5 separate regions of the Homo sapiens genome follow, and all the other regions are linked to region 5. The links come from fine-mapping of genetic effects on gene expression. A gene starts in region 5. Each other region holds a variant in brackets. All regions are shown on one strand. Distances are between the middles of the regions.

Region 1 (5,000 bases), 47 kb after region 5:
GGGAGAGTGGTGTGTTTGCTTTTATACATTTTTCTGCAGCTGTAGGCATACCCCCCAAGTCTGCTTTTAGCTTCCCTATTTTAGTGCACCTGGAGGGAAAGGAATGTGCTTATTAAGGCCCACTGTTTTACTGGGGCCCATTGTATGAGGGTGAAGTTTGGCAGTTACCCAAGAGACTTTTCCTCCACCTTCCTCTGTGCCCGAGCTGTTTTATCTGCATTTTACTGTCTGCTTTTTTTGGCTGCTTATAGTTTTTAAAAAAGTAATTTCCTTAAATCCAGAAGGCTAAAAATGAAGCTGAAACTTAAAGTGGCGGTGTTTGTCCAAAATAACGGGGCTCCTGCTCTGCCAGTCAGTACCCTCAAGTCACTCCTGATCCTCAACCTCCATGCCTAAGGCTGGTTCAAGAGACCACATAATATCTGCCTTTTATTACATACATGATGGGTGCATGGGATTCTGCGTGCCCTTTGCTTGATATAGACTGCTAAGGTGAGATGGGGAATATCAGAGTCAGCTGCTGCTTGAGGAAGCAGAACACACAGCTGGAGGCTTGGAACATGTGGGTCCCTATGAGTGTAGAGCCCATATCCCCATAGAGTCTACCTAGAGCAGGGGTCGCCAAATGTTTTCTTAAAGAGCCTGATAGTGTATATGTTAGGCTTTGTGAGCCAGGTATTTACAGCAACTCAATTCTACCACTGTGGTATGAAAACAGCTATAGACAATCATAAATGAATGATCATGGCTATGTTTTAATAAAACTTTACAGACACTGAACTTGAACTTCCATTGTGATATGAAAACAGCTATAGACAATCATAAATGAATGATCATGGCTATGTTTTAATAAAACTTTATGGACACTGAGCTTGAACTTCATATATCAGTCATGTGACACAAAATATCATTCTTCTTTTTATTTGTTTTCACCCATTTGAAAAATGTAAAAACTATTCTTAGCTGTACAGAAACAGATGGTGGGTCAGATTTGACTCACTGCCCATAGTTTCCAGACCATGATGTTCAGGTTCATGGAAGCACTTCACTCTACACTAATTTATTCATCCATTCATCACATATGTGATGAGCACATACAGACACACCTCAGAGATATTGCAGGCTCCACTCCAGATCACCACAATAATGTGAATATTGCAATAAAGCAAGTCATACACATTTTTTGGTTTCCCAGTGTGCATAAAAGTATGCTTACCCTATACTGTAATGTGTGCAATAGCATTATGTCTTTTTTTTAATGTACATACTTTAATTTAAAAATAGTTTATTCCTAAAAAATGCTCAAGCAGGGACACAAAGTGAGCACATGCTGTTGGGAAAATGGCACCTACAGACTTGCTCGACACAGGGCTGCCATAAACGTTCAATTTGTAAAAAATGCAATATCTGTGAAGGGCAATGAAATGAGGTATTCCTATACTCTCGTGCAAGGCATAATGCTAAATTGAGAGAAACTAAAACATATAAGACAGACATGATCCTACATCCAGGAATATTGATGATTTGTAAGATGGAAAATGAGGAGGAAGGAAAGGTGCAGTGCAATGGACTCTGTGGTCTGGGGGACACACAGCCCCTTTAAGGACATGGCAGAAGTGAAACACAGACGAGGTTGGGGAAGGAAGGTCAGAGGAAACTCTAGGGTCAGCTGATGGCAGCATCCATTTGCCCCCATATCTTCACTTTTTAAATTTATTAAGTCCATTCTCTTTATTTATGATGGAAATAATGTTAATTTGCTCATGGGTTGTGTTTGAATATTAAGTAAGAAAATAAAGATTAAGCTCTGGTATGTAGTAAGAAACCCAAAGATAAACAAGAGTTAAGGGGCAAGTAGGCAGCAGAGTTTCCCATCTCATTTCTCCAGAATTATATCATCCAGTTTGAAACATGAAATACGGCTTTAAGGTAGAGTTTGGCTTCTCAGCTGGATTTTAAGTACAAGACCACGCCCACCAAAGACAGCA[G/AG]ACAAAGGAGCTAGGGTACACGTTTGAAGAACCCTCTCCCTCCAGCTCTCCACCGTGGGGGTCCACTGTGAGCAGTTTCCCTGGCTGTTTTCCCCCTTTCTGCATCTAACAGTCATTGCACGGCTGGGGAAACAAAGACCCACACAGGCCTTAGTCTCCTTGCGGGGAACCTACAATCCGGAAGCCAGAAGTATGTGACTAAGCTCCCGGAAGCCGGAAGTTAAGGAGCCCGGATGTCACGGAACTGGAAGTTTGAAAGTCCAAGGCCACTGACCTGCAAGCTTCAGAATCTGCAGATTTGGAGTCTTCAAGCCCCAGTAGTGATCCTTTGATATCCAGAGGTTGGATTCTAGCGATCTGAACATGCAAGAGAGTACTGGATGTGGAAATTCTTCCAAATTAGTTGGGTGGCTGAAAAGGGAATTATAAGGAGGAAGAATGAGGGAAAGAGAAGAGAAATTGAATGAATAAAGGGGCCAATCCTTGGGGGGAGGGGGCAGGAGGGGCGGTGCTTGAGACCAGGGCAGCATGTAAGGGACTGCCTATGAATGTCCTAAATATCTGCTATTTAGGGCATTCTGGGATGGGAGTTTGAAAGACTGATGGTGGTGTGTTTTGCAGCCACATGAATGCAGCTGGAACCATCATCCTAAGTGAATTAACTTAGAAAACCAAATACCGCATGTTCTCACCTGTAAGAGAGAGCTAAATATTGGGTACACGTGAACATAAAGATGGGAGCATTAGACAATGGGGACTACTAGATGGAGGAGGGAGGGAGGAGGGCAAGGGTTGAAAAACTACCTATCAGGTACTATGCTCACTAACTGGATTCATTTGTACCCCAAACCTCAGCATCATGCAATATACTCTTGTAACAAACCTAAACGTGTACCCTCAGAATCTAAAAATAAAAGTTGAAATTAAAAAAATCACTGTTGATAGACATTTGGGTTGTTCCCAGTTTGGGTTATTACAAACTGCTTTGCTAGCTTTAACTTTTTTTAAATAATAAACTCTTAAATTTACAGTGCAAGAAATACAGAAAGAGAGAGGAAGACAAAGAAAAAGAAAGGAGATAGAGAAAGGAAAAGCAAAGAAAGAAAAAGAAAAAAGTGAAAGAAAGAGAGGAAGGGAGGAAGGAAAGAAGGAAGGAAGGACAGACTGATGGTGGGATAAGAGAGAAGGGGCTGGGAAGAACTAAGTGGAACATTCTGAAAATGAAGACAGTGGCCGGGCACGGTGGTTCACACCTGTAATCCCAGCACTTTGGGAGACTGAGGCAGGCAGATCACCTGAGGTCAGGAGTTCAAGACCAGCCTGACCAACATGGTGAAACCCCATCTCTACTAAAAATACAAAAATTAACCAGGCATGGTCACGGGCACCTGTAATCCCAGCTACTCAGGAGGCTGCGAGGCAGAAGAATCACTTGAACCTGGGAGGCAGAGGTTGCAGTGAGCAGAGATTGTGCCATTGTACTCCAGCCTGGGTGACAGAGCGAGACTCCATCTCAAAAAATAAAAAATAAAAATAACTCTCTTCTCTCTATTTTCCTTCAATAAATTCTCTTTTTGGCTAAAGTAGTCATTTTAGCCAAAATCTTTCTCTCAAGACAACAAAGAACTGAGGATTTCTGCCCTTTCCAGTATACAACTAGCAGGGATCCCACTGGCATTTTTCTTTGGACAGATAAAATTGGATGTATTTATCAAGAGCAACATGATGTTTAATGGATGTATACATTGGGGAATAACCAGATCTAGCAAATTAATGTATGCCTCGTCTCATATAGTTATTATTTGGTGGTGAGAACAATTTACATCCACTCTCTTAGCATTTTTTAAGAATATAATTTATTATTAACTATAGTCACCATGCTCTACAATTGATCTCCTGAACTTCTTCCTCCTGTCTAACTGAAATTTGTATCCCACCGGGCGCAGTGGTTCACACCATAATCCCAGCACTTTGGGAGGCTGGGGTGGGCAGATCGCTTCAGCCCAAGAGTTCAAGCCCAGCCTGGGCAAAATGGAGAAACCCTAACTCTACAAAAAATATTAGCCAGGCATGGTGGTGCATGCCTGTGGTCCCAGCTACTCTGGAGGCTGAGGAGGAAGGATCACTTGAGCCCAGTAGTTTGAGGCTGCAGTGAGCTGTGACCACACCACTGCACTCCAACCTGAACAACAATTAGACCCTGTCTCAAAAAACAAAAAAAAAAAGTGTATCGTTTGACCAACATCTCCCCAACCCAAGCTACTGGCATTTAGTTAATAGTCCAGGGATGCTGCTCAACAGTCTTCAGTGCATAGGGCAGTTCCTACAGCAAAGAATTATCTGGCCAATAAGGTCACAGTTGAGAAACCCTGACTGTAGGATGCAATGAATCTCTCGGTTTCTCTTCAAAGGTTCAGTCTGTTAACTTCCTTGTCTCTATGCCTCCCTGCCCCAAGTTACTATAAACAGCCTTCCCGTCGGCACTAATCAATAACTCACATCTGTTCCCTCGGTCACGCATTCTGCACCCGTTCCACCCCTCAAAACCACACACATACCCTTCAAAACTGCACGTCCCACCATTGTAACTCACGTCCCCTTCCCCCTTCTTTATTTGAGAGAAATATTCGCAAGTAGCCAATCGGGTCAGCTTACATTGTGCCGACCCCAGCCCATGGGGGAAGGACATGGAGGCAGGGATTGCGTTAAGGATATAAAACCCCCCTGGCCTCCTTTGTTCTCTGTGCTCTTGGATCTTGATTGACGTGGGTGGCACCCTTCTGCAGAAGTAAACTGCCTTGCTGAGAGAACTTTTGCCTCAGTGCTGGTTTCACTTTGCAGCACCCAGCATTTATTGCTAGAGCATTTTTATATTCAACATGACCTAAGGTGTAAAGGGATTCACATGGAAGTTTTTGCCATTTTCTTCATCCTTTCCATTGTCGTCATAGGTCACTCATTCCCAGGTCTAGAGAAAGTTTGATGCAGTAACTGTTGTTTGAGATGAGTGGC
Region 2 (5,000 bases), 120 kb after region 5:
GAGTGAGCCACCACGCCTGGCCACTCTAATTTTTTAACGTGCTTAGATCTCACAAGAGGAAAAGGCACAGGCTTCCTCAGCCTTGAGAGGCCCTGCCCAGAGGCGAGGCCTCATTATTATTATTATTTACATATATAATATGTCAGGGGAGTGGGGGGCTGGGGGAGGGATAGCATTAGGAGAAATACCTAATGTAAATGGGTGCAGCAAACCAACGTGGCACGTGTATACCTATGTAACAAATATATATATTTGTTTTGAAATGGAGTCTCCCTCTGTCACCCAGGCTGGAGTGCAGTGGCACAATCTCGGCTCACTGCAATCTCCGCCTCACAGGTTCAAACAATTCTCCTGCCTCAGCCTCCTGAGTAGCTAGGATTATAGGCATGCACCACCACGCCTGGCTATTTTTGGTATTTTTAGTAGAAATGGGGTTTCAGTATGTTGGCCAGGCTGCTCTTGAACTCCTGACCTCAGGTGATCAAGAGGCAGGGCCTAATTATAACAGGAGAGTTTGTGACCCCAGTCCATTTAACCTGCCTCTCTTCTCCCTGCAGCTTCCTGTGCTAAGTGCCCCCCAAATGCTTCCTGTGTCAATAACACTCACTGCACCTGCAACCATGGATATACTTCTGGATCTGGGCAGAAACTATTCACATTCCCCTTGGAGACATGTAACGGTAAAGAAGTATTATTATTTTTTATTATTATTATTTTATTATCATTATTATTAGAGACAGGGTCTTGCTCTGTTGCCCAGGCTGGACTGCTGTGGCATGATCAAAGCTCACCGCAAGCTGGACACAGTTGCTCAAGCCTGTAATCCCAGCACTTGGGGAGGCCTAGGTGGGCAGATCACTTGAGGTCAGGAGTTCGAGACCAGTCTGGCCAACATGACAAAACCCCATCTCTACTAAAAATACAAAAATTTGCCGGGCATGGTGTGGGGCGCTTATAATCTCAGCTACTCAAGAGGCTGAGGCATGAGAATAGCTTGAACCTGGGAGGCAGAGGTTGCAGTGAGCCGAGATTGCACCACTGCACTCCAGCCTGGGCAACAGATCGAGACTCTGATCAAAATAAATAAAAACACTCACTGCAGCCTCCAACTCCTGGGATCAAGCCTCTCAAGTGGCTGCAACTACAGGCGTGCCACCATGCCCAGCTAATTTTTTTTTTTTTTTTTTTTTTTTTGTAGAGATGGATTGTTACTATATTGTCCCGGCTGGTCTCAAACTCCTGAGCTCAAGCAATCCTCCCGCCTCGGCCTCCCAAAGTGCTGGGATTACAGGCGTGAACCCTGCACCTGGCCAGGGATAATTTGCAAGTTATCCAGAAGCAGGAGCAAAAGGGAGGCAAAATGGGGGCTGTTTTGGAAACTTGGCCGTTCATTTAAGATAGTTTCTTGTTTCAGCCAGGCATGGTGGCTCGCGCCTGTAATCCCAGTTCTTTGGGAAGCCAAGGCAGGTGGATCACCTGAGGTCAGGAGTTTGAGACCAGCCTGGCCAACATAGTGAAACCCCGTGTCTACTAAAAATACAAAAATCAGCCGGGCGTGGTGGTGCATGCCTGCAATCCCAGTTACTCGGGAGGCTGAGGCAGGAGAATCGCTTGAACTCAGGAGGCAGAAGTTGCAGTGAACCCAGATCCTGCCATTGCACTCCAGCATGGATGACAGAGCAAGACTCCGTCTCAAAAAGAAAAGATAGTTTCTTGTTTCATTTCGCGACTGCCCTCTCAGTGTTTCCTGGGATCCCCTCCCAAATAAAGTACTTATATTCTCGTCTCATTGTCTGCTTCCTGGAGAACCCCACCAAAGTCAATGAAGAAAGCGAAAAACCAAGATAACCATTACCTAAACTGATTTGTCTCGGAAAGCCAGGACAGACCATGGGGGAAAGAGCACAACTCCTGACACATAGTAGCTGCTCAATAAATCTTTGCTGAATGAATGACCCAATTGCTTCTTTGTGTTCCAGACATTAATGAATGTACACCACCCTATAGTGTATATTGTGGATTTAACGCTGTGTGTTACAATGTCGAAGGAAGTTTCTACTGTCAATGTGTCCCAGGATATAGACTGCATTCTGGGAATGAACAATTCAGTAATTCCAATGAGAACACCTGTCAGGGTAAGAACATTTTTGTCCTCCTGCCTTCCTTCCTCTGTTGTTGTTTTTTTGTTTGTTTGTTTTGTTTTGTTTTGTTTTGAGACAGAGTCTCGCTCTGTAGCCCAGGCTGGAGTGCAGTGGCTGAAACCTCCGCCTCCCGGGCTCAAGCGATTCTCCTGTCTCAGCCTCCCAAGTAGCTGAGATTACAGACGTGCACCACGACGCCCAGCTAATTTTTCTTGATCCACGCTCCTCATCCTCCCAAAGTGCTGGGACTTTTTACAGGCGGCAGTCCTTCCTCATTTTTTATTGAATCTAACATCAGAAAAGACGTATTTGTTGTGGGACCAGGATGTGGTTTTTATTTTCTGCAGGGAACTACAAGGAAAGAAGGAAGTTCAAGTTGAGGGAAATAAGGGGGTGAGAAAGGGAACTATAGTTTGGAGATGGAGGATGTGACAAGGTGGTGATTGAGACCACATTCTTTGAATTGCAAGGAAGAGAAACTCACTCAGGCTAACAGGCCAAAAAATGGGTTTATGAAAACGATGCGTAGCCATGCCCTGCAAGGACAGGAATGCAGCTGGGCTTCTGGAATTAACTAAAACTGGGAACTCAACACCCCCAGGGTGCATCTCCTAGTCCCTGTCTCTAATCATCTTTGGATCTGCTCCTTCCTTCTCTTTCACTGCAGGCTGGCTTTCTCTGCTTCCTAGACCACAGGACAGAAAATATGACCACCGGCTGGGAGGGGTGGCTCA[C/T]GCCTGTAATCCCAATACTTTGGGAGGCCAAGGCGGGTAGATCACTCGAGACCGGGAGTTCAAGACCAGCATGGCCAACATGGCGAAACCCCATTTCTACTAAAAATACAAAAATTAGCTGGGTGTGGTGGCGGGTGCCTGTAATCCCAGCTTCTCAGGAGGGTGAAGCACAAGAATTGCTTGATCCTGGGAAGCAGAGGTGGCAGTGAGACAAGATCCCGCCACTGCACCCCAGCCTGGGTGACAGAGTGAAACTCTGTCTCAAAAAAAAAAAAAAAAAAAAAAGGAAATATGACCACCAACCCGCTCCAGATCTTACCATTTTTTTTGCCCCAACCAACCAAAGAGAGATCAGTTGACTCTCTCTCTGAGACCCCATTGCAAATTCTTTGGGAATGAATACATTGGCCCAGTTTGAGCCCCATGTGCACCCGTGGATCCGTGTCCAGGGAGAGATACTGTGTCATGTAAACATGACCACTCCCATGGAAAACATGGATGGGAAAGTCTATATGAGAAAAGAGATGAGACTTGGTAGACCACCCATGAGGTATTGACTACCGTAGGGATAATAAGAGAGAAACTTTTTTTTTTTTTAAGAGATGGGGTCTCACTCTGTCACCCAGGCTGGAGTACAGTGGCACAATCATTGCACACTGCAGCCTTGAACTTCCAGGCTCAATCCTCCCACCTCAGCCTCCTGAGTGGCTGAGATTATAGGTATGAGCCACCATACCTGGCTAATTTATTCATTTTTTGTAGAGATGGGGTTCTCACTATGTCGCCCAGGCTGATCTCAAACTCCTGGTCTCAAGCGATCCTTCTGCCTTGGCCTCCCAAAGTGCTGGGATTATAGGCATAAGCCACAGCACTCAGCCATAAATCTGTCTTTTACTAAGCAATGCGCACCTCTATTGACAGTGTAGAAGCAGACTGTGATTCTACCTGGGTTCTGATGTTAATCTCTTAAACTTGTCTTATTTTACAAAAAAGGAAAATGCCTTTGGTTGTTTTCCTAATGTTAAGAGGTCTGCACCGTCCTTTTATAAAGACTGAGCCCATTTGGGGTTCGTTATTACCAAGGCTGGCAGCTCTAAGCAACAGACACCCCCACCCAATGATAAAGTGTGCAGCTTTGGTTCAAAAGGGCAGTTTTCTACAATAAATACGGTTTCCTATAACAAACATATTCTAGACTCAGGGTTGTAAGTCAAAGTTCTTGAACTCTTAAGATAAAATGTTCAGTATTAAAACAAAGCTGTTTGTGCTTTTAAGCAAATAGACTGAGCTGAAAACCAAAATTTAGAATAAGTACAGATTTAACCTCAGCATGATGATAAAAGATATGTAAACATTTGCTAGACTTTCCTTGTCTTTTTTTTTTTTTTTTTTTTTTTTTTCAGAGGCAGAGTCTCGCTCTGTCTCCCAGGCTGGAGTGCAGTGGTGTCATTTCAGCTCACTGCAACCTTTGCCTCCTAGGTTCAAGAGATTCTCCTGCCTCAGCCTCCCGAGTAGCTGGGATTACAGGCACCCGCCAACATGCCCAGCTAATTTTTGTATTTTTAGTAGAGACAGGGTTTTGCCATGTTGGCCAGGCTGGTCTCGAATGCCTAGGCTCATATGATCCTCCTGCCTCAGCCTCCCAAGCAGCTGGGACTACAGGTGCACCCTTCCTCAAATTTCTAAAGCAGAGATGTCCTCACTAAGCACAGAAACCAACACAAAAGTCTTCATTAACAGCTGATGACCAGACACTGATGCTTCTGTTTCGGTTATCATTCCCAGCCAGGCTGACTTTAAACACAAGAGGCTTCTAATTTTCTGTTTTCTCGGACATTTCAGTTCTAATTTCCAGTCAAGATGGAATAAAAGAATTTGGAGGCCAGGCACGGTGGCTCGCGCCTGTAATCCTTGCATTTTAGGAGGCCAAGGCGGGTGGATTGCCTGAGGTCAGGAATTTGAGATCAGCCTGGCCAACATGGCGAAACCCCATCTCTACAAAAAATACAAAAAAAAAAAATTTAGCCAGGTCTGGTGGTACACACCTACAGTCCCAGCTACTTGGGGGACTGAGGTGGAGGATTGCTTGAGCCCAGGACATTGAGATTGCAGTGAGCCAAGATTG
Region 3 (5,000 bases), 21 kb after region 5:
TGACAGAGTGAGACTCCGTCTCAAAAAAAAAAAAAAAAAAAAATCTGCTTAATAAGCGGAGAGGTGGCTGGCTTGGTGGCTCACACCCGTAATCCTAGCACTTTGGGAGGTCAAGGCAGGCAGATCACCTGACATCAGGAGTTTGAGCCCAGCCTGGCCAATATGGTGAAACCCTGGCTATTAAAAATACAAAAATTAGCTGGGCTTAGTGACACGTGCCTGTAATCCCAGCTACCTGGGAAGCTGAGGCAGGAGATTCGCTGGAACCCAGGAGGCAGAGGCTGCAGTGAGCTGAGATCGTGCCACTGCACTCCAGCCTGGGTGACAGAGTGAGACTCCGTCTAAAAAAAAAAAATATATATATATATATGTATAACTTATACTTTTTGTCTAACTGTATGTCTCTACCTGTTAACTCACCTCTCTTCATCCCAGTGATACAGGAGTGAAAAAGAAATTATTTAGGCAGTTAGCAAGGGTCAGAGAGTCCTCAGTAAGGTTTCCCTTTTAATAAAAACCAGCCCCCAAATCATTTCTTTTCTAATAACGAGCAGCCTGAAAATTCGAGCTGCAGACATAGAAAAGCAAGCTGGAAGCTTGCACGGGTGAATGCCGGCAGCTGTGCCAATAGGAAAAGGTTACCTGGGGGCCCGACATGTTCAACGTGGGGGCTCCCTCTTCCTTTATCTTTGTCAACCACGTGTACAGTACAGAAGCAGGCAACGTGGAGCCAGCCAGGTAGAGAATCCATTTGCATAATAAAAGATTAGGCTGGGGCAGCCAGTTTCTTCATGCTGTATGTAAATGGCTCACCTGTTCAGACCAATCTTTAAGCCTTATGTAAATCGGACACCGCCTACCCAAGCTCATCTATAAAACTTCGTGCATTTCACCACGCAACCGGAAGACCCACTTGGGAGCCCCTGTCTCTCTGCAGGAGAGGGAGTTATTCTCTTTTTCCTTTTTTTTTTTTTGAGACGGAGTCGTGCTGTGTCCCGCAGACTGCAGTGCAGGGGCGCGATCTCGGCTCACTGCAAGCTCCGCCTCCCGGGGTCACGCCATTCTCCTGCCTCAGCCTCCGGAGTAGCTGGGACTACAGGCGCCCACCACCATGCCCAGCTAATTTTTTTGTATTTTTAGTAGAGACGGGGTTTCACCGTGTTATCCAGGTTGGTCTCGATCTCCTGACCTCGTGATCCTCCCGCCTCAGCCTCCCAAAGTGCTGGGATTACAGGCGTGAGCCACTGCGCCCAGCCAGAGCTATTCTTTTTTTCTTTCGCCTATTAAATCTCCACTCTTAAACTAACTTCTTATGTGTCCACATCCTCAATTTCCCTGGTGTGAAACAGTGAAACTTGGGTATTTACACCACTTCACTAGTGAGATGATACCTCATTGTGGTTTTGATTTGCCCTTCCCTGATAACTAATGATGTTTAACATCTTTTCATGTGTTTGCTCACCATTTGCATGTCATTTTTGGAGAAATGTCTATTCAAATCCTTTGCCTATTTTTAATTGTGCTGTTTGTCTTTTGGTTGTCCAGTTGTAAGCATTCTTTAAACATTCTGATAGTAGATCATCTGAGATGAATGATTTGCAAAATATTTTCTCCCGTTCTGTAGATTGTCTTTTCATTTTCTTGTCTTTTCACTTTAATGAATAGAAGTTTTAAATCTTGAAGACATTTATTTTATCTAATTTTTCTTTTGTTGCATGTGCAATTGGTGTCATATTTAAGAATTCATTGACAGGGGGTGGTGGCTCACGCCTGTAATCCCAGCACTTTGGAAGGCCAATGTGGGCGGATCACCTGAGGTCAGGAGTTTGAGACCAGCCTGGCCAACAAGGCGAAACCCTGTCCTTACTAAAAATAAAAATAAAAATAATTAACCAGATGTGTTGGCACATGACTGTAATCCTAGCTACTCAGGAGGCTGAGGCAGGAGAATTGCTTGAACCTGGGACACGGAGGTTGCAGTGAGCTGAGATTGTGCCACTACACTCCAGCCTGGATGACAGAGCAAGACTCTGTCCCAAAAATAAAAATAAAAAAAGAATTCATTACCGCATCCAAGACCAGGAAGATTTACCCCTGTTTCCTCCTAAGTGTTCTAGTTTTAGCTTCTAAGCTTAGGTCACTGGCTTATTTTGAGTTAATTTTTGTTTGTTGTGTGAGGGTAGGGTTAAAACTTCCTTATTTTCATGTTACTATCCAGTAATCCCAGCACTATTTGTTGAAGAGATTATTCTTTCCCCCATTGTATAGTCTTGGCACCCCTTGTTGAGAATCAACTGACCATAAGATGGATGGGTTTATTCCTGGACTCTCAATTCTATTCTGTTGTGTCCTTATGCCAGTATTACTGTCAGTTTGTAGTAAGTTTTGGAATCAGG[T/A]AGTGTGAATTCTCCAACCTTCTTGTTCTTCTTCAAGATTGTTTTTGGGTATTTGGATTCCTTACAACACCATATGAATTTTAAGATGAACTTTTCTTATTCTGCAAAGTAATAATAGGCTAAAATATTGATAGGGATTGCATTGAGTCTCTAGACCACTTTGGGGGAGTATTGTTATCTTAACAATAGAAAGTCTTCCAATCCATGAACATAGGCTGTCTTTCCATTTAGAGAGGGCCTTTTATTTCTTTCAAACACTTTTGTAGGCCAGAAGCAGTGGCTCACGCCCAATATTGTCAGAGGCCACCAAGGTGGGAGAATTGCTTGAGCCCAGGAGTTCAAGCCCAGCCTTGGAAATATACTGAAACATGATCTCCACAAAAAATTTAAAAATTAGCTGGCTGTGGTAGTGAGCACCTGTAGTGCCAGCTACTTGGGAGGCTGAGGTGGAAGGATTGGTTGAGCCCAGGAGACTGCAGTGAGCTATGATCATGCCACTGCACTCTAGCCTGACCAACAGGTGAGAATTTGTCTCAAAAAAAAAAAAATACTCAAAAAACTTTCCTATAAGTCTTGAGTCTCCTTCGTAAAATGTATTCCTAACATTTTTGCTGAAAATTTTTGCATCTATGTCCATAAGAAATATTGGTCTATAATTTTATTTTCTTGTGATGTCTTCATCTGGTTTTGTTATCAGAGCAATATTAGACTCATAAAATTACTTAAATAGTGTTTCCTCCTCTTCCATATTTTTAAAAAGGTAAAAGATTCATGTTCATTCTTTCTTAAGCTATTGGTAGAACTCACCAGTGAAGTCATCTGGTCTGGGCTGTTAGTTTTGAGAGGTTTTGATTACTGATTTAATCTGTTATAGGTCTGTTCAGATCTTCTATTTCTTCTTGAGTTGATTTCAGTGGTTTGTGTGTCACTAGGAATGTGTCCATTTCATCTAGGTTACCTACTTTGTAGATATACAGTTGCTCACACTATTCTCTTCCGATATTTTGTAACTTCAGACTATATATGTATATAGTATATATATTAAGTCATAGTATATCAACCACTGCAGGCACGATTCCTAACCTAACCCCCCTTATGTAATTCCCACAACTCATAGAATTGTCCCTGGAGGTGCAGAAGCAAGTAGACAGGAGTGTCACCTTGAGACAGAATCAGGCAGTGATGCAGCTCGACTGGAATCAGGCACAGAAATCTGGTGACCCAGGTAATGGCTGAGATGGGGAGGTGGTCAGTGAAGCTTCATGGTGGGAAAAGATGCCCAAGAATGTGAAAAATAAGAAATTTAAAGATTAAAGGGAAGTGTGGGATGTTTGGAGTGGGGCTGTAAGAGGAGAGTCCAGCTGAGGAGGAACGGACCTTGTTGGGGACCCTGAGATATTAACCGTGGCCTTGTCCTGCAGGATGTGATACACATAGAACTAAAGATTGAAGGAAAGTGTGGGAGGGGTGAAGCCAAAGGAAGGTAGCCCATCTGAGTAGAAAGTTCTGTGCAGGGCAGAGGAACTCTGGTGTGGACCCAGAGATTCAACCTACTCCAAGATTCAACCTTGGCCTCGCCCTGCAGGCCCTTCTGTGGTGGGCCTTGTCTCCATTCCAGGGATGGGCAAGTTGCTGGCTGAGGCCCCTCTGGTCCTGGAACCTGAGAAGCAGATGCTTCTGCATGAGACACACCAGGGCTTGCTGCAGGACGGCTCCCCCATCCTGCTCTCAGATGTGATCTCTGCCTTTCTGAGCAACAACGACACCCAAAACCTCAGCTCCCCAGTTACCTTCACCTTCTCCCACCGTGTGAGTGCTGGTGGAGTTGGTTGGTGGGTGAATAGTCTGAGTCCGGGCATAGCCTTGCTGCTCAGCTCAGCCCTGGGGCTCAGGGGTCTCTGTTATGGGTACATTATCTCCCCAGGAAAGTCAGTCCTTCCCAAGCCGGCTTTGGGTAAGCATTTCTGAGCATCCGACCCACCAGCTCACACCTGTGTTCTTTTTTTTATTGAGACAGAGTCTCGCTGTGTCAGCCAGGCTGGAGTGCAGTGGCACGATCTCAGCTCACTGCAGTCTCCGCCTCCCAGGTTCGAGCGATTCTCCTGCCTCAGCCTCCCTAATAGCTGGGACTACAGGTGTGTGCTACCACGCCCAGCTAATTTTTGTATTTTTTTTTTTTTTTTTTTTTTTTAGTAGAGATGGGGTTTCACCATGTTGGCCAGGCTGGTCTCAAACTCCTGACCTCAAGTGATCCACCTGCTTCAGCCTCCCAAAGTGCTGGGATTACAGGCGTGAGCCACCATGCCCAGCCCACACCTGTGTTCTGTTCCTGCAGTCAGTGATCCCGAGACAGAAGGTGCTCTGTGTCTTCTGGGAGCATGGCCAGAATGGATGTGGTCACTGGGCCACCACAGGCTGCAGCACAATAGGCACCAGAGACACCAGCACCATCTGCCGTTGCACCCACCTGAGCAGCTTTGCCGTCCTCATGGCCCACTACGATGTGCAGGTGAGACCCTTAGGAGGGGATGCACTCTGCATTTATTGCCGTGTAACAAATCCCCAGAGACGTAGCAGCCTTTTAAAAAAATATATGCATTATCT
Region 4 (5,210 bases), 22 kb before region 5:
TCAGCAGTCCATTGGAATTATTATCTTTCTTTAATTATTATTTGGAGACAGAGTTTCACTCTTGTCACCCAGGCTGGAGTGCAGTGGTACAATCTCGGCTCACTGCAACCTCCGCCTCCCAGGTTCAAGCGATTCTCCTGCCTCAGCCTCCCAAGTAGCTGGGATTACAGGCGTGTGCCACCACGCCCAGCTCATTTTTGTGTTATTAGTAGAGACGGGGTTTCACCATGTCGCCCAGGCTGGTCTCGAACTCCTGACCTCAGGTGATCCACCCGCCTCAGTCTCCCAAAGTGCTGGGATTACAGGCGTGAGCCACCACGCCCGGCCCATTGGACATATTAAAACAGAACATTGCCATACATTTCCGCTATCTTCAGCACCAGGAACTGGTGGGACTGTGGGGTTGTCATATTCAGCAATGCCACTGAGCCAAGAAAGATGGTGGGAAAATGATAAATTGCCACAAAGCTGTCCAACCTGGTTTCAGTCACCTTTTTTAAAAAATTAAGGATTCACTTTGTTGCTCTAAACCTTTGACTGTTTTCCAGATTCCTGACTGATATGGTTTGGCTCTGTGTCCCCACCCAAATCTCATCTCGAATTATAATCCCCAAGGTTGAGGGAGGGGCCTGGTGGGAGGTGATTGGATCACAGGGGCAGTTTCTAATGGTTTAGCACCATTCCCCTAGTGCTGTCTTGTGATGGGATTCTCATGAAATCTGGTTGTTTAAAAGTATGGTGCTACCGCCTTAGCGCGCGCTCTCTCTCTCTCTGCTGCCATGTGAAAAAGGATGCTTGCTTCCTCTTCCCCTTCCACCATAATTGTAAGTTTCCTGAGGCCTCCCAAGTCATACAGAACTGTGAATCAACTAAACCACTTTCTTCATAAATTACCCAGTCTCGGGTAGTTCTTTACAGCAGCGTGAGAATGGACTAATACACTGATCAAGTTGATTATGACAGCTGCCACGGTATTATCTATGTTTCTGTGAAGTATTGGTACTTTGGAGTTCTCTACCTAAAATTCAAAATATATCCTAAAATCGCATTAATTTAATACGCAGTACCTATAAAATTTTTTAACCATATTTTACCAAAATATTTTTTTAAAGCATAATGTCTGACTGGCTTTCCAGTGACAGAACAGAAACTCACAAAACGAACATGTAAAATAATGTAACATATGATCACATAAACAATGCAAATTATTGTAAACATGTCAGATGTTTGCACTGAAAAAATGAAACATTGGCTTTATAAACAAAGGTTGGAATAGCTGAGAACAATGTGTGAAAAGTATCAACTCCATGCAGATAGCAGGGGGAAAAAGCATAGTTATTGAGCTCCTGTTTTGCATGCATATTAGGTAATGAGGAATGAGGGAAGACATGGAGGAGAACAAAGGTGAGAAGAGCTGAGAACTAGAAGCTGTAAGTGTCCAAGACCATTGCTACTCAAATATTAATGAAGCTGCTACATTGTCTGGAGTATATACCCTGGGGTTCATTGGCATGCACTAGGAAAATTTAGAACACGGACACACACGAGGAGTTCAGAGGCGGAGGTTTAATAGGGAGAAGAGAAGAAAAAGAGAAACACCTCTCTCCATAGAGAAAAGGGTCTCCGAGAGGAAAGGACAGGCTGGTGGTGAATGCGCAGAGTTTAATAGTCCCCTTTGAGGAGGCAGTGTCTGATTTACATCAGGCTCACAGATTGGTTCCATCAGGTATGACATTTTCATAGTGCTCAGGGAAGGCTGGTGGCCCCACCCTAATCTTACTTTGCAATTGGACTTTCCAGTTGATCTGCGCCATCTTGTCTGCTCGTGGCTGACAAAGAGAAGGGAAGATGGAGCCACCATCTTGAAAACTTCTAGTCCTTAGTTCCTGCCGGCATTCACCCGTGCAAGCTCCCAGCTTGTTTGTGTCTGCAGCTCGCCTTTACAGGATGCTCTTTGTTAGAAAATGATTTGGGGCTGCTTTTCATTAAAAAGAAAAGCCTCACTGAGGACTCCCATAACCTTACTATCTGCGTAAGTGATTTTTTCTTAACTCCTATATCACTAATATGCATGTGAAACCCTTGGTGATATTGTTAAAATGTAGATTCTGAATCCGTAGGTCTGACCAGGGATTCTGCATTTAAAGAAACTCTTGTTGATCTTGTTGGTTCATGGACAACACTTTGAGAAGCCAGGCTATAGAGGGTACAAGTATTATGGAACTAACACTACATTTCCAGATCCCGATGGTAGCAAAGAAAAGGATGGAAGAATTTCAGATGCCCCAGAAAAAGACAGCAAGAAAAAGGCAATCTTTTGTTAATTGATTCCTTCACTTAAAATTAAATGTAACCAAATTTCCATGTTGCCAGTGTGTTGATAATTGACTGTTGCTTTTTTCTCTCTTGTGGCAGTTATTTTATCCCCATGGAAACAGGAAATCAAACACATGCCCAAGAATTTCTCCTCCTGGGATTTTCAGCAACGTCAGAGATTCAGTTCATTCTCTTTGGGCTGTTCCTCTCCATGTACCTAGTCACTTTCACCGGGAACCTGCTCATCATCCTGGCCATATGCTCAGACTCCCACCTCCACACCCCCATGTACTTCTTCCTCTCCAACCTGTCTTTTGCTGACCTCTGTTTTACCTCCACGACTGTCCCAAAGATGTTACTGAATATACTGACACAGAACAAATTCATAACATATGCAGGCTGTCTCAGTCAGATTTTTTTTTTCACTTCATTTGGATGCCTGGACAATTTACTCTTGACCGTGATGGCCTATGACCGCTTCGTGGCC[G/A]TCTGTCACCCCCTGCACTATACGGTCATCATGAACCCCCAGCTCTGTGGACTGCTGGTTCTGGGGTCCTGGTGCATCAGTGTCATGGGTTCCCTGCTCGAGACCTTGACTGTTTTGAGGCTGTCCTTCTGCACCGAAATGGAAATTCCACACTTTTTTTGTGATCTACTTGAAGTCCTGAAGCTCGCCTGTTCTGACACCTTCATTAATAACGTGGTGATATACTTTGCAACTGGCGTCCTGGGTGTGATTTCCTTCACTGGAATATTTTTCTCTTACTATAAAATTGTTTTCTCTATACTGAGGATTTCCTCAGCTGGGAGAAAGCACAAAGCGTTTTCCACCTGTGGTTCCCACCTCTCAGTGGTCACCTTGTTCTATGGCACGGGCTTTGGGGTCTATCTCAGTTCTGCAGCCACACCATCTTCTAGGACAAGTCTGGTGGCCTCAGTGATGTACACCATGGTCACCCCCATGCTGAACCCCTTCATCTACAGCCTGAGGAACACGGACATGAAGAGGGCCCTGGGGAGACTCCTCAGTAGGGCAACATTTTTTAATGGTGACATCACTGCAGGACTTTCATAAGTAGCAAGGCTTGGACCATTGGGAGGCACTTTTGGTGGTTCTTGAATGTATCCAAACATCAATGTATTCTCTTTTAGTTCTGGAATTACCATATCTTATCGTGTCTTTGATACAGGAGCTAGAAAGAAATTATTTAGGTAGATAGGGAGGGCCACAGAGTCCTTGGCAAGGTTTCCCCGTTAACAAAAAGCAGCCCTCAAAATCATTTCTTTTCTAACAAAGAACAGCCTGAAAAATCGAGCTGCAGACATAGATAAGCAAGCTGGAAGCTTGCATGAGTGAATGCCGGCTGCTGCGCCAATAGAAAAGGGCTAGCTGGGGACCAGTCATGTTCAACATGGAGGCTCCCTCTTCCTTTTCTTTGTCAACCATGTGTACAGCAAAGGAACAGGCAACATGGGGCTGCCCAGGTAAAGAACCCATCTGTATAATAAAAGATTAGGGTGGGGCAGCCAGCTTCTCCACATGCTATGCAAATGGCACACCTGATCCAACCAATCTTTTATGGCCTATGTAAATCAGACAACACCTCCTCAAGCTAGTTTATAAAACCCTGTGCATTTCACCATGGAACTGGCAACCCATTTTCTCTGGGACCCCTCTCTGCACATAGAGCTCTTCTCTTTCTCTCACCTATTAAACTTCTGCTCTTAACCTCACTCTGGTGTGTCCGCATCCCAGTCTTCTTCCATGGCTGTGGGACAACAAACCTCAGGTGTTACCCCAGACAACTATGCTGCTTCATCTTGATTTTGACAATTTTTGAAGACGGTGTATTAACTTTCTAGGGCATCTGTAACAATGTGCCACAAATTGGGTGAGTTAAACAATAGCAATTGATTGTCTCACATTTCTGTAGACTATGACGCCTGAAATCAAGTTGTTGGCAGGGCTGGTTCCACTTGAAGGCTGTGAGAAAGATTCTGTTCCATGCCTTACCCCTAGCTTCTGCCGGTTGCTGGCAGTCTTTGGCTTTCCTTGACAATATAGAAGCATCACCCCAATCTCTGCTTTCATCTTCAGGTGATGTTCTCCCTCTAGGTGTGTCTGTGTCCAAATTTCCCCTTCTTATATGGACAACATTCAGATTAGAGGCCAACTCTACTCCACTATGGACCTCATCTTAGCTTAACTAATTACATTCACCGCAGCCCTATTTCTAACTGAGGGCTTTAATGTAACATATGATCACATAAGCAATGCAAACTATTGTGAACATCTCAGATATTTGCAATGAAAAAACTAAACATTGGCTTCACAAAGGTCAGAATAGCTGAGACCACATTCTGAAGTTTTGGCGGTAAGGACTTCAACATATGAATTTGTAGAGAATGAAAATTCAACCCATAAAAGACAGTTTCATCAAGACTAGCTTTAAATGCAAAGAATGACCAGCATCCCAAATTGCCCATTTCTGTTTTTTTTTGTTTTTTTGCAAATAAAATTTTATTGGCATATAGCCACACCCACTTGTGTACATATTATCTGTGGCTGCTTTCATGTTACAAGAGCAGATATGAGTAACTGCCACAGAAATCATCTGACCTGGAAAACCTACCTAAAATATTTACTCTCTGGCCTTTTTCACTGTGAAGGTTTGCTGACCCCTGAATTAAAACATTGCTCTCACTTCATCTCGTCTAAGTTAGATTTTTTTTTTTTTTTTTTTTTTTGAGATGGAGTCTTGCTTTCTCACCCAGGCTAGAGTGCAGTGGCGCAATCTCGGCTCCCTGCAAGCTCCGCCTCCCGAGTTCATGCCATTCTCCCACCTCAACCTCCCGAATAGCTGGGACCACAGGCACATGCCACCACACCCAGC
Region 5 (5,188 bases):
AGTTCCCCTTTTGACAAATGAGGACCATGTTCGCACCCCCCATCATTGCAGAGGTTGTCCAGAAGCTGCAAAATAGGTCAGCAGGACTGAGACTTCTGGACAAAGAGAAGGCGGAGAAACATAGGCAGACACCCCGGCAGGGACCAGATCAGCGAGGCTGAAGGAGGCTTCCTTTAGCTGGGCGGCAGCGGAGTGGAGTGGCAGGAGTACTACTAATTTGCATGGTTTACCATATAGGGCCCCACTCAGCACAGGCTCTGTGCTGGTGCTCTGCAGAGAAAAAGACAAAAGTCACTCAGGGGGCTGACAGCCTAATGCGGCTCGAGGGCAGATGGTTGCTAGGGAAGAAGGGAGATGGTGAGAAGTATTGGAGAGACTCAAGAAAGCCGCCAGGAATGGTGACTCACGCCTGTAATCCCAACGCTTTGGGAGGCTGAGGCGCGTGGATCATTTGAGGACAGGAGTTCGAGACCAGCCTGGCCAACATGGTGAAACCCTGTCTCCACTAAAAATACAAAAATTATCTAGATGCGATGGCAGGTGCCTATAATCCCAGCTACTCGGGAGGCTGAGGCAGGAGAATTGCTTGAACCCGGGAGGCAGAGATTGCAGTGAGACGAGATAGCACCACTGCACTCCGGCTTGGGTGACAGAGCAAGACTTCGTCTCAGAAAAAAGTAATAATAAATAATAATAATAATAATAAAATAAAAATTTAAAAAGAATGTTTCAGGCCGGGCATTGTGGTTCACGCCTGTAATCCCAGCACTTTTGGGATGCCAAGGCAGGCAGATCACTTGAGGCCAGAAGTTCGAGACCAGCCTGACCAACATAGCGAAACTCCATCTCTGCTAGAAATACAAAAATTAGCCAGGCGTGGTGGCTTGCACCTGTAATTCCAGATACTTGGGAGGCTGAGGCAGGAGAATCTCTTGAACCCAGGAGGCAGAGGTTGCTGTGAGCTGAGATCACATCACCACACTCCAGCCTGGGTGACAGAGCGAGACTCTGTCTCAAAATAAATAAATGAATGAACAAATAAATAAAATAAAATAAAAATACAAAAATTAGCCAGGTGTGGTGGTGGGCACCTGTAGTCCGAGCTACTCTGGAGGCTGAGGCAGGAGAATCGCTTGAACCCGGGAGGCGGAGGTTGCAGTGAGTCGAGATGGCGCCACTGTACTCCAACCTGGGCAACACCAGAGTCTGTCTCTAAAATACAGTAAAATAAAATTAAATTAAGAAGAGTCGATGATCACCATGAAGGGGTGTAGGGACAATCCCTGGCATCAGGAAGTGCCACTACCTCCCTGAGATTCTGCAGACGCCAGCTGTCTGACCTGCCCGTCTGATCTGCAGAGAAGGGACGTTGAGCCCTGGGGTTCTAGCTGGAGTTTCTGGCTTTCTGAGAAAAAAAAGGCAAAATCCCTCCAGACCTGGTCTGGCCCTCTCTCCTTCCAGCTTCTGCTGGTGTTCACTCCCCTCCCCCACAGCCCAGGCCACCCCCACAGGAGCCCGGGACAGGAAGGGGTAAATTCTAGGACTGTGGATGTTTGATTATTCCCAGGACAATAGTTCTCTGACTTCAGTCATTAGTGACTTTTTTCTCCATCGCTGCAATCTCCCCCTTTGAACAACTGAACTATATTTTCCTTAGCATTCATCACTTCTGCATCTTGAATTTACTCATGTAACAAGGAGACTTGATTTCGGCATCCTCACTGAAAAACCCTCCTCATTGCCCCAGATAGTAGGGAAACCTAAAAATAAATATAAATATGAGGAACACAAAACCAAGTCCTTGAATTCTGGCTGGATACAGACACCTGCTAAGCCTCAGGGTCACGGAGGCGCTAAAGACATGTTAGTGCCCAGTGGAGACTTTCCCCTGGGCTCATCGCAGGGACTCCAGGGCTGGGCTGCCGGCCTGTGGATCTGAGTCTCAGCTGGGTGAGTCACTTGTGCCTCAGTTTCCTCCTCTGTCAAATGGGAATGACAACATCATTGCAGATGTTTTAAGGAGTAAATGAGTTAATATAGATTAAAAAAAAAAAGCACTTAGGACCAGACCTGGTACAAATTAAGTGCTCCATAAATAATAGCATTTTCTTGGCAGGATAGCGAGATCTCGTCTCTACAAAAAAAAAAAACACTTAAGGAGAAAACTAGCCAGACGTGATGGTGCACAGCTGTAGTCCCAGCTCCTCAGGAGGCTGAGGCAGGAGGATCCCTTGAGCCCTGAAGTTTGAGGCTGCAGTGAGCTGTGATGGTGACCCTGCACTCCAGCCTGGGTGACAGAGTAAGATCTCTTAAAAATATATATAGCGTTTTAAAAAATGATTACGTACCTCAAGAGACAAGCTAATCATATGATTTATCCAGAAAGGAAAGAACCCTCCTATCACATGATTCTCTGTTGATTAACGAAGTGCCCAGGGGCCTCTGAAATATAAGTTTCCCACAGGAGGAAACTGGCTTAGAAAGACCAGAAAGATCCGGGGGGTCTGCTCTGTGCGGTGAAGCTTCTCTTCTTGGCACCTGCCTGGCATCGGAAGAGGGCCCCTTCTCCCTCCCTGGGCTTTTATGTGGACACTGTAATGCCTCAGTTTTCTTTCTTTCTTTTTGTTTTTGACACAGGGTCTCACTCTATCACCCAAGCTGGAGTGCAGTGGCACCATCTTAGCTCACCGCAGCCTCAAACTCCCCAGCTCGGGTGATTCTTCCTGCCTCAGCCTCCTGAGTAGTAGCAGCTGGGACCACAGACGTCTGCCACCAAGCCCAGGTAATTTTTTTTCTTTTTGAAGAAACAGAGCTTTGCCATGTTGCCCAGGCTGGTCTCAAACTCCTGAGCTCAAGCGATCCTCCTGCCTCGGCCTCCCAGAGTGCTGGGATCACAGGTGTGGAGAAATAGGAACGCTTTTACACTGTTGGTGGGAATGTAAATTAGTTCAACCATTGTGGAAGATAGTGTGGTGATTTCTCAAGGATCCAGAACTAGAAATACCATTTGACTCAGCGATCCCATTGCTGGGTATATACCCAAAGGATTATAAATCATGCTACTATAAAGACATATGCACATGTATGTTTATTGCGGTACTATTCACAATAGCAAAGACCTGGAATCAACCCAAATGTCCATCAATGATAGACTGGATTAAGAAAGTGTGGCACATATACACCAGGGAATACTATGCAGCTATAAAAAAGGATGAGTTCATGTCCTTTGCAGGGACACAGATGAAGCTGAAAACCATCATTCTCAGCAAACTAACACAGAAACAGAAAACCAAACACCACATGTTCTCACTCATAGGTGGGAACTGAGCAATGAGAACACCTGGACACAGGGCGGGAAACATCACACACTGGGGCCTGTCGGGGGGTGGGGGCCTGGGGGAGGGATTGCATTAGGAGAAATACCTAATGTAAATGACGAGTTGATAGGTGCAGCAAGCCAACATGGCACATGTATGCCTATGTATCAAACCTGCTCGTTGTGCACATGTACCCTAGAACTTAAAGTCTAAAAAATTTAATTAATTAATTAATTAATTAATTTAAAAAGAAAGAAAGAAACCGAGCTTCGCCATGTTGCCCAGGCTGGTCTCAAACTCCTGAGCTCAAGCGATCCTCCTGCCTCGCCCTCCCAGAGTGCTGGGATCACAGGCGTGAGCCTCTGTACCTGGCCTCAGTTTCCTCATCTGGAAAACAGCAGGGGAAGATACTGCCAGCTGGGACGCAGGCTCTGCCAACTCTGGCATGCCAAAGCTCTGGGCACAGGGTGAGCCCTACCAAAGTGGGAGCCCAGAGCTATTTCTGACAAGGCCCCTGCGTGCCTGCCCAGGGAAGAGCCAAGTGGCCCCAGGCGAGACCGCCCCGCCCGGCTGCCACACCTTCCCCTGCACAGCAGCCAGCCTGGAACACACAGAGGCCAGAGGGTTGGTCAGAGCCACATGGTGGAAACTCCAGCAGAGGGATTTTTAAAGCAGGTTGCACTTCATTCTTGCTGAGCGAGTACACGTGTGTGTGTGTGTGTGTGTGTGTGTGTGTGTGTGTGTGCAGCGCCCCTGGTTCTGTGTTTTTATTGTGCTTTCCTGCTGGCTTCCAGCTGCACCGCCAGTTCCGGGGAGGGCCCTGGGCCAGCGGCTGTCCGCCCCCCCTCCTTTATAAAGTCCTGGCCTCGGGACAGCCCGCACAGCTGCCCAGCCTGCGGAGACGGGACAGCCCTGTCCCACTCACTCTTTCCCCTGCTGCTCCTGCCGGCAGCTCAGCTGGAACCATGGGAGGCCGCGTCTTTCTCGTCTTTCTCGGTAAGTACTTTGGGGCCCCGCTGGGGGTGGTAGCGAGGAAGCTCCAGCGGGACCCCTTGGATGCGTCTGAGAAACGGGAGGCGCCGCTGGTGTCTGTGGGGCCGGCGATGGAGAAAGCCACATGGTCAAGCAGGCACTCACGGGCACACGGCGAGAGGGGCTGGTGGTGCTTGGGCACCCCCACACCCCGGCAGGAACTCCAGGGTGCTCTCGGAGCCTGCTACCCTGCCCGGAGGGATCCTCAAGCTTTCTACTGGAGCCAGTTTGGCATCTGCTCCATAAGAGGGGAAACTGAGGCACGGGGGAAGGAAAGGGGCAAAAAGTGAGTGCTAGGACCCCAGAGCCACTGCTCTTAATATAGCGCATAGAAAGACATGGGCGGGGGGCGGGGAAAATAGAGGCCAGGACTTCTCCACTGCAGGGTACCCCCAGCTTCTCCCTTCTTTCTCTCTCTCTCTCTGTCTTTCTCCTTCTGTCTCTCTTTCAGTCTCTCTATCTCCCTAATCTCCGTTTTCTCTCTACCTCTGCCTCTTTGTCTCTCTCTCTGGTGAACAACAAGGAGATCCCTAGGTCCCCATCTCTAAAGCCCCTGGTGACCTGAGGAGGGTCCCCCAGGACATGCCTTGGAAAGGGGAACTTCCTGAGTGCTGGGAACCGCAGCGCCACATGCACCCCAACAGGCGGCCACAGCGTTTTCCTGTGGGAGGGGCGCCCGGGGTGAAATATCACCACTGGGTTTCAGGATGGGCCGCCAGGGCTGGCGGCGGTTGTGGTGTGTGTGCACCTGTGTCCCTGAGGAAGCATGCGGTTCCAGGGCATCTTAGAGCCTGGGGGATCCAGCGCCATCATTTTTTTTTTTTTTTTTCTGAGGCGGA

What was found. PIP is the estimated chance that this variant, and not a neighbour inherited with it, causes the effect.
Region 1: its variant is fine-mapped to the expression of ADGRE2 in whole blood (TOPMed, PIP 0.98).
Region 2: its variant is fine-mapped to the expression of ADGRE2 in whole blood (INTERVAL, PIP above 0.99).
Region 3: its variant is fine-mapped to the expression of ADGRE2 in whole blood (INTERVAL, PIP 0.90).
Region 4: its variant is fine-mapped to the expression of ADGRE2 in whole blood (TOPMed, PIP above 0.99).

What each region holds. Positions count from the first base shown.
Region 1 is chr19:14,728,574-14,733,573 of GRCh38, reverse strand. ADGRE2 (adhesion G protein-coupled receptor E2) reads left to right here. Exons shown (of 21, transcript NM_013447.4): 21 at 1-1,182. It also overlaps a transcript of ZNF333 not described here. Among named protein-coding and RNA genes, the nearest start is that of ZNF333, 41 kb to the right of the region's middle. RefSeq lists an enhancer at 1,809-3,008. The variant G/AG (reference allele first, on the strand shown) is at 1,989.
Region 2 is chr19:14,659,098-14,664,097 of GRCh38, reverse strand. It overlaps ADGRE3 (adhesion G protein-coupled receptor E3), which reads left to right. Exons shown (of 16, transcript NM_032571.5): 3 at 558-680; 4 at 1,980-2,135. Among named protein-coding and RNA genes, the nearest start is that of ADGRE3, 13 kb to the left of the region's middle. The variant C/T (reference allele first, on the strand shown) is at 2,876.
Region 3 is chr19:14,754,859-14,759,858 of GRCh38, reverse strand. It overlaps ADGRE2 (adhesion G protein-coupled receptor E2), which reads left to right. Exons shown (of 21, transcript NM_013447.4): 12 at 3,514-3,621; 13 at 3,982-4,205; 14 at 4,732-4,905. Among named protein-coding and RNA genes, the nearest start is that of ADGRE2, 21 kb to the left of the region's middle. RefSeq lists enhancers at 97-622, 623-1,146. The variant T/A (reference allele first, on the strand shown) is at 2,397.
Region 4 is chr19:14,797,355-14,802,564 of GRCh38, reverse strand. OR7C1 (olfactory receptor family 7 subfamily C member 1) reads left to right here. Exons shown (of 5, transcript NM_001370485.4): 3 at 1,801-2,032; 4 at 2,121-2,309; 5 at 2,416-4,050. The coding sequence starts at 2,429. The coding sequence ends at 3,391. Among named protein-coding and RNA genes, the nearest start is that of ADGRE2, 21 kb to the right of the region's middle. RefSeq lists an enhancer at 1,303-2,502. The variant G/A (reference allele first, on the strand shown) is at 2,804.
Region 5 is chr19:14,775,851-14,781,038 of GRCh38, reverse strand. ADGRE2 (adhesion G protein-coupled receptor E2) reads left to right here and starts at 2,479. Exons shown (of 21, transcript NM_013447.4): 1 at 2,479-2,782; 2 at 4,112-4,313. The coding sequence starts at 4,283. RefSeq lists an enhancer at 4,943-5,002.